2 separate regions of the Homo sapiens genome follow, and region 1 is linked to region 2. The links come from fine-mapping of genetic effects on gene expression. A gene starts in region 2. The other region holds a variant in brackets. All regions are shown on one strand. Distances are from middle to middle. Region 1 overlaps TMEM170A (transmembrane protein 170A). Region 2 holds the start of TMEM170A (transmembrane protein 170A).

Evidence for each region. PIP is the estimated chance that this variant, and not a neighbour inherited with it, causes the effect. A credible set is the group of variants that fine-mapping cannot tell apart.
Region 1: its variant is the best candidate, but not a certain one, in a credible set for the expression of TMEM170A in sun-exposed skin (GTEx, PIP 0.60).

What each region holds. Positions count from the first base shown.
Region 1 is chr16:75,441,692-75,446,080 of GRCh38, forward strand. It overlaps TMEM170A (transmembrane protein 170A), which reads right to left. Exons shown (of 3, transcript NM_145254.3): 3 at 1,363-4,389. Among named protein-coding and RNA genes, the nearest start is that of CFDP1, 10 kb to the left of the region's middle. The variant C/T (reference allele first, on the strand shown) is at 2,462.
Region 2 is chr16:75,462,883-75,467,271 of GRCh38, forward strand. It overlaps TMEM170A (transmembrane protein 170A), which reads right to left and starts at 1,807. Exons shown (of 3, transcript NM_145254.3): 1 at 1,586-1,807. The coding sequence starts at 1,718. RefSeq lists enhancers at 238-287, 1,477-1,977 and a silencer at 1,154-1,783.

The sequences.
Region 1 (4,389 bases), 21 kb before region 2:
CTGGGGGTGAGTCTGGGGAACAGGAGCCACTGCGTTCTCTGGCAGACACTCCCCAGCACCCATTTCTCCTAGCACTCCATGTGATTGTTCAGATTTACAACTAGAGTTCCTGACCGCTTTAAGGGTAATCAGAGTGGGAATTACTTTCTAATAGTTGAGATGGAAAAAAAATTGGTGGTGAGCAGGCCAAATCCAGCTTAAAATCATGTATTGTAATGACTTAAAAGTGTTTTACGGCAAGGCGCACAATTACAGGTGGCTCGCGGCTGTAATTCCAGCACTTTGGGAAGCCAAGGTGGGCGGACCATTTGAGGTCAGGAGTTCGAGACCATCCTGGCCAACACCGTGAAACCTCGTCTCTACTAAAAATACAAAAATTAGCCAGGTTTGGGGGCGCACATCTGTAATCCCAGCTACTTGGGAGGCTGAGGCAGGAGAATCACTTGAACTTGGGAGGTGAAGATTGCAGTGAGCCAAGATCGCGCCACTATACTCCAGCCTGAGCAACAGAGCGAGACTGTGTCTCTAAATAAATAAATAAATAATAAAAGTGTTTTACGCAAGTTTAAATTAGTTGCTAACACTTAAAAATGGAGAGATTTCAAACAGTAACCTAGATTTCCAGCTTCTCTTGAAAATAAGTATCTGGCAAGATTGGGTTAATCATCGAATAAAGCAGAAACAGGCTGGAGCCAAGCAATAGCTGACTCCTTCGGACAGGGCTCTCCACTTGGCCACAGCACAAATCCCTCCAACTCCCTAAAGATTCCTGGTTCACTGTTCTGTTTTCTCGGTAATAATTTAGGGTGTCCTCCCTGCCGATCTCAGCACCTTTACTCCCAGATACATATACAGTCTTGGGGTCTTCTGTCTGAACTGTGTACGTATCTTTCCGGGGTGCTAGAAACATTCTGTCTCTTGATCTATTAGTCACATTAAGTATATATATATATATATATATATATATGTAAAATTCATTAAGCTATACATTTTAAGATTTGTACACTTTACTGCATGTTAAACCTCAACTTTAGAAAATTAGAAGGAATGAATGGGCAATCTCCTGCCAGACATTCTCTGTATGTGTCTGCAATGGCTGGAACTGCAGCAATCTTGTGACCATGAGGTAAACTACCCAACTTAGTCCCATTTGTTAAAAATGGCAGAACAGTGAGATTTATGATGTCACCAAGGGTATTAAATTAACCAAACACGACGAAGCTTCTCTTCATGTGGACTTACTATTAAAATAATACATTTTCACACACTGTATCAATACTCACCTATTCCTGCACAGAATCAAACAAAAGTTTCTTGATGGGAATATATGGCCCAGCAAGTAGAGTTAATAAGAATTTCAAGTTCACATGTTAAGTACGGTTTAATCACAACTTTGAACAAGAATTTTATCATAAATTAGTAAGAAGTAGAACATAAAAAAAGTTACACATGCTAGATATTAAGTTATTTAAAAAATGAAAACTGAAGTCAATTTTATTACAAAAGATTAAACTCATTAGCCACCAAAAAGAAATATAATTCCAACTCAGAATTGAAAGTAATTTTTTATTGATAAACATTTACACTAGAATTAGAAATGTCAGTAGAAAAATAAAATTTAAATAATTTTCTATTGTACAAAGATTTGATCATTTTGACTGTAGCAGTTAGTGAAATAACATAATATAAAAAGTTAAGCTGATCTGAGTCACAACCAGCCTTATAGAGTGCACAAAAAAGAAATGCAAGTACACGACATTTCTGCATATGGTCTGCTAATGGCACCGATGCTTCACATTCCAGGAAATGGTTACTTAGGGAAGGTTGATATGTGCTGCAGCATAATAGGAACTTAATTCAAACCAGAGCAACCAGAAAGGATACTGGAGGCAAAAGCCAAAATACAATTTAAAATCTTAAAAAAAATAAGGAACGGTTTAAAGGTAATTAATGAACTTTTCCTCACCTAGTGTAAACATTTCATAAGAAGTAATATTTTGTGGTCACAAAAAAAGCACAGATACCTCTTTTAGAATATTCATGATGCTCTTGTGTATGAACTTAAGTTTTCATGAAATGCTTTCACCTCAAAACCCCGTATTCAAGAATCAAGAAGGCCAAGCATGATGGCTCATGTCTATAGTCCCATCACGTTGGGAGGCCGAGGCGGGTGGATCACTTGAAGTCAGGAGTTTGAGACCAGCCTGTCCAACATAATCAAACCCTGTCTCTACTAAAAATACAAAAATTAGCTGGGCCTTGTGGCGGGTGCCAGTAATCCTAGCTACTCAGCGGCCAAGGCAGGACAATCACTTGAACCCAGGAAACGGAGGCTGCAGTGAGCTGAGACCATGCCACTGCACTCCAGCCTTGGAGACAGAGCAAGACTCCATTTCAAAAAAAAAAGAAAAAAAAATCAAGAAATCAGCTTTTATGGTCAGGAGGCTGCCTCCCTCCCTCT[C/T]TTGCATTTCTTTTTTTTTAAAAAACAAAGCAGAGGCCGGGTGTGGTGGCTCATGCCTGTAATCCCAGCACTTTGGGAGGTGGAGGCGGGTCAGGAGATTGAGACCATCCTGGCTAACACGGTGAAACCCCGTCTCTACTAAAAATACAAAAAATTAGCTGGGCATGGTGGTGGACGTCCGTAGTCCCAGCTACTCGGGAGGCTGAGGCAGGAGAATGGCGTGAACCCGGGAGGCAGAGCTTGCAGTGAGCCGAGATCATGCCACTGCACTCCAGCCTGGGCGACAGAGCAAGACTCCGTCTCAAAACAAAAAAACCAAAAAACCAAAGCACAGCTGGGGGAGGATATTTCTAAGAAATCAGTTTTTGGCAAAAATTCTCAAAACTATATAAGGTAAAATGTTCAACACAATTGCCAATATTCTTCCATCTGAGTGACCACCCCCAAATAATTCTATATTTGAGACATAAAAAAGAAAATCAAAGCTATTCCTTATGATTCAAATAGTCTTTCCCTGAAAACATTTCAAGCTACACCGCTCAAGCTATTTAAAATCTATATATATATATAGATTTATTCACTGGAGAATACTTCACCTACTGGGATGGATGAAACACTCAGTAATTTGAAGATACCTTTTATACGTTTAGTTTTTTAAAAGAGTAGATAACCAAAATATATCAAACAAGAAACAGAAACAAATACACCTTTCAAAATGCCCTAATTTTAAGTCTTAGCTCCAGTGAAAAATATCTAACATTTTAATCATGTATCAGTACTTCAAAAGTTACTGTTTAAGAGGAGGGGCCCACTAACTACTGGTCTATATGTTTAGTGTATGAAATTACATCCAAAGAATGCTTTAGGCAAGAACTCCTTCAAAAGACATTTTTCAGTAAGAGGCATCCTTCAGTAGAGATGATGGCAATCATTTCCCATAAGAAAAGTTACCAATTCCCCAGATTTCTTAAACTGAAGGGATACTTTTGAAAATCACAGCTCTTTAAACAAAAAACTAGAATTTTTACAATTTGCCTGTGAGAAAGATTTGAGCTTCTTGTTAGGGAATTTGTAAGAATATTTGGCTGCATTACAACTCTACTTATAAGTTTCTGCCCGTGTATATGTCACTATAGTTTTGATAAGTTAATTACCAAAATTAGTAATATTATTTTAAGACAGGGTCTTGCCCTGTGGCCTAAGCTGGAGTTCAGTGGCGTGGTCTCGGCTCACAGCAGCCTGAACCTCCCAGGCACAAGTGATCCTCCCACTTTAGCCTCTTGGGTAGCTGAGGCCACGCCCAGCTAATTTTTTTTTATTTTGTAGTAGAGACAAGGTCTCACTATGTTGCCCAGGCCAGTCTTGAACTCTTGGGCTCAAGCAATCCTCCCACATCGACCTCCCAAAGTGCTGGGATTATAGGTGTGAGCCACTGCGCCCAGCCATAAGTGGTCTAATTAGTCAAAAGAATATGTCCAGTTTTTGTGATCTCTTTGTAATTCTTTTCTATGAGTTTCCCTGGCAAATTGGTCCTCCTGACTTTTTTCTTTTTTTTTTTTTTCCAAATTGGGCAGACTCCAGAATCACAGTAGATTCAGAGACTCTCCTCCTGGCTATTTTTAATCAGAAGCCAGAGTGTGTATTGCTTTAAATGGAATAGATACGTTCATGTGTATATGACCTCATGGGCTGTTAAGCCTTAATCTCACAATGAAAACTTTCCTTTAAAGATGTCAGATTTATGGCCAGGCGCGGTGGCTCACGCCTGTAATCCCAGCACTTTGGGAGGCCGAGGCGGGTGGATCACAAGGTCAGGAGTTCAAGACCAGCCTGGGCAAGATGGTGAAACCTATCTCTACTAAAAATACAAAAATTAGCCGGGCACGGTGGCAGGTGCCTGTAATCCCAGCTACTCAGGAAACTGAGGC
Region 2 (4,389 bases):
TGGTTTCATGGATAGAAAATGGTTTTTAGAAGATACATGTTAAGATTATCAGGCATCAAGCAAGTGTTATGACTTCTGCAACTTCCTATTGAATGACTCGAGTTGAAATGGGACATGTGACCTACATCTAAGTGTGATACGTATGTAATACATGTGGTTATATATATAGAGAGAGAGAAAGAGAGCAGAGAGAGAGAAAGAGAAACAGAAAGCCAAAGAATCAAAATATTACTGAGTCTAAGTAAAGGGTACATGGGTATTTGTTATACTGTTCTCTCAACTGTTTGGCAGGCTTGACATTTTTCAGGAAAGGGGAAAATTAAGGAAACAAAGATTAATCTGGTCCCAGTAGTGCCTCCAGATTGCACGAACATTTCATGTATCACACAGGGTCACCAGAATACCATCAATTTTTTGATATCACTGTCAAAAGTGATCCTAGCACCTTCTGAAATAACGTGAGCTGCCAGATTCTCATTTCAGGAATGACCACAAGCGAACATCTGCATCTGACCCCAACCTGCCTGATGACCTTACCCGCTACTTCACAATCCCGTCCGGGAAAATCCCTGGGCACATAACACTGCAAGTCCCAGGTGTCCGCTGAACGGCGCCTGGCAGTCGCTGCCCAGGGGATGAGAAATCACAGGTGCCTTGTTTGGAACTAGAGTCTGGAATCTCGTCCTCCTTCCCTCTGCTCTGGTCCCTCATTGTTTATGAAGACCTCAGTCCCCTCTGCTGGGAGCCCCACCTCCCCTTCCAGGGCCACGGGCTCTAGTCTTCTTGCCTTTCAAGGACCACACAAATAACTGTGCCTCCCCTCAAAGCTTTTCTCCTCCTTCCCAAGTGAAGTCCTCTCTCCTCCCTCCAGCTTTCAGGGCACGGAGCGCTCTTCCTGGCATTAGAATTCTGAGCAACCCTCCTAGCAGGCCCAGCTCAAGCCGCAGCGGGGAGGAAGAGTTCAAAGGAAGCTGTGCCAAAGATCTCGAAGGCTTAGTGGGAGACCCAGCAACAGGTGGCACCAGGTCTGGGAAAGATTCCTAGAAAGCGGAGCGGGTCTCGGAGGGGGAGGATTTAGCCCCAGGCGCCCGCGATCAGCGAACGAGCGCCTGCGCGGAGGGGCCGGGCTGCAGCCCCGGGGCAAGGGGAGCGCGAGCTCTGACTCCTCAGCGCGGCCGGGCCGCTCCGAGACCCCTCGAAGGAGGCCGGGCGCCGTGGGGCAACCCAGGCAGGGCGGGGACCACAGCCTCCCGGGCTCGTGGGGTGCAGCTCTGAACCTGAGGCGCTCGGAAGCTCAAGGCCAAGACCCGCTCGGGTGGCGGCCGAGCGCCCTCCAGCCCCGGGCCCACCTGCGGCCGCTCTCTGCATCTCACGCCCAGCGGGACTCCGGGGCTCCGCCTCAGGGACCGCCGAAGAAGTGATGGGGAAAGGGGCTCCGGGCGAGCAGCACGGCCCCCCTCCCGGAGGACAGCGCCCACGCCGCCAGCAGGCTGCGCACCCGGGACCCCGCCCAGACTCGGGGCGCCCACAGCACGGCAGCGGCGACGGCGGGGCGCGCAGTGCGCAGGCGCGGGGCGGGCCGTACCTGGGAAGGAGCAGAGGGAAGTAGAGTTGGGGCACAGGGTCCCGTTGCCCACCCGCGGCACAACCTTCAGGCTCAGGATCTGCTGCAGGAGCCCGGCCGACCCGCCGCTGCCGCCGCTCCCCTCGCGCTCCATCCCGTCGCCATTCACCACAGAGAAATGAGGGACGAGCGCCCGAAGTGCGGTAGCGGCCGGCGCCGACTCACCCTCGCCGCCTCAGCGTCACCTCCAGCCGGGGTCCTCTTCCCCCAATCCCAACGGCGCTGCCAAGTGACCGTTGCCTCCTCCAATCACAAGGCGCCGCAGCGCTCGGGCGCAGGGCCAGGGTTGTTCCCGCCCCCAACGTTGCGCAGGGCTCGCAGAGACACAGCCCCACGGACGCGCCCCCTCCTGGACGGCGCGCTCTGGGACCGCGCGCTCTGCTCTGCCCTTCTCTGCAGCGCCCCCTGTGAGAAAGTAGGGAATTGCATGCGCCCCAACAGAGCCGCGCTATGGAGTTACCAGGGATCTGGAAAAATACAGTGATGGAACGGATATGTAAAGTTCTAGTTATGACTGGACTCCAGCATTTATGAAACCTTCATGAACAGAACAAGAACGTTCTCTATTTAAAGCTGATAGTAGAAAGAGCCCATGCAAAGTCTGGTGTGGGACCAGAATGGGAGGGAGGCTATGTAGCCTCTATAGAGCTCGACTTAGTTTTAAATAAAATAAAATGTACAGAGATTCGGTTCAGAGCAATAAAATTAGATCACACTTTTTTCTTTTTTTTGAGACGGAGTCTCCCTCTGTGACCCAGGCTGGAGTGCGGCCGCGCGATCTCTGCTCACTGCAAGCTCTGCCTCCCGGGTTCACACCATTCTCCTGCCTCAGCCTCCCGAGTAGCTGGGACTACAGGCGCCCGCCACCACGCCCGGCTAATTTTTTGTATTTTTAGTAGAGGCGGGATTTCATCGTGTTAGCCAGGATGGTCTCGATTTCCTGTCCTCGTGGATCACACATTTTTGTCTCACCTCCCTTCAGAAAGCCTGTTAAAATGAAGGCAGAGAAATCGTAAAAAGGAATAAGCTAATGTTCAGTTTGTTTGCACTGCTGTAACAAAGTACCTGAGAGTGGGCAATTTATTAAGAACAGAAATTTATTTTCTCACAGTTCTGGAAGCTGGGAGGTCCAAGATCAAGGTCGCAGCAGGTTCCATGTCTAAGGACGGCCCGTTCCTCACTGATAGCACCGCCCGGGCGTCCTCACACGGTAACAAAGGGAGCCCACTCTCCAAATCCCTTTTATAAGGGTCCTAATCCCATAACGGGGGCTCCACTCTTCTGACTTAATCGTCTCCTAAAGGCCCCTCCTCTCAGTACTATCGCATTCCCACGAAGTTTCAGGACATGAATTTGGGGGAACACGTTCAGACCATAGCAGCCATTAACAATAGTGTTCTGGAAGGGAAGTTACCAAGGATAAGTAATGTCCACAAGGTTCCAGGTGATGAAGAGGCTTGTGACGAATAATAATGTTTTTGTTTGGTTGGTTGGTTTGTTTTGAGACAGAGTCTCACTTTGTTGCCCAGGCTGGAGTGCAGTGGCGAAATCTCAGCTCACCGCAACCTCCGCCTCCCTGGTTCAAGCGATTCTCCTGCCTCAGCCTCCCCAGTAGCTGGGATTCCAGGCGCGTGCCACCAGGCCCAGCTAATTTTTGTATTTTGAGTAGAGATAGGGTTTTGCCATGTTATCCATGTTGGTCTCGTTCCTGACCTCAAGCGATCCACCTGCCTTGGCCTCCCAAAGTGCTGGGATTACAGGCGTGAGCCACTGCACCTGACTGGTAAATTTTTTTTTTTTTTTTTTTTTTTTTTTTTTTTTTTTGAGACGCAGTCTTTTTCTGTCGTCCAGGCTGGAGTGGAGTGGAGTGTAGTGGCGCAATCTCGGCTCACTGCAACCTTCGCCTCCCGGGTTCAAGCAATTCTCCTGCCTCAGCCTCCCAAGTAGCTGGGATTATAGCTCCGTGCCACCATGCCCAGGTAATTTTTGTATTTTTAGCAGAGATGGAATTTCACCATATTGGTCAGGTTTGTCTCAAACTCCTGACGTCAGGTGATCCATCTACCTTGGCCTCCCAAAGTGCTGGGATTACAGGCGTGAGCCACCGTGCCCAGCCTGAAAACTTCTTTAAAAATCATTGAATTGTACAGTTAAAATAAATGAATTTTATGCTACATAAATCATACCTTTTAAAATCTTTTTAAAAAGTGACCAATTCACCGATCTGCCAAGCAAGGTGGCTCATGCCTGTAAACCCAACACTTTTGGGAGGCCAAGGCTGCAGGATTGCTTGAGCCCAGGAGTTTGAGACCAGCCTGGGCAACATAGGTAAACCTTGTCTCTACTAAAAATTCAAAAATTAGTCGGGTGTAGTGGCACACACCTATAGTCCCAGCTAACTCCAGAGGCTGAGGTGGGAGGATCCCTTGAGCCCCAGAGGTCAAGGCTGCAGTGAGCTATCATTGCTCCATTGTACTCCAGCCTGGGCAACAGAAGAAGGCCCTGTCTCAAAAAACAAACACACAAATAAACAAACAAAAAACCCCACAAGAATTTAAAGATGGCTCAGGAATTTAGTAAATAATTAAAGCTGAAACTTTTTGTCATATAAGTTGAAATGGAAAAACCTGTGATTCACAGGTATTTTCTGGCGCAGCTAGACTTCTTGTTGGCATTTCAGATTCTGTAGGATTTTTTTGTGACAGTGGCTGACAGCCTTTTTCCATAATTGTGCTATATCCAATGCTGGCCCTGGAAATAAATGG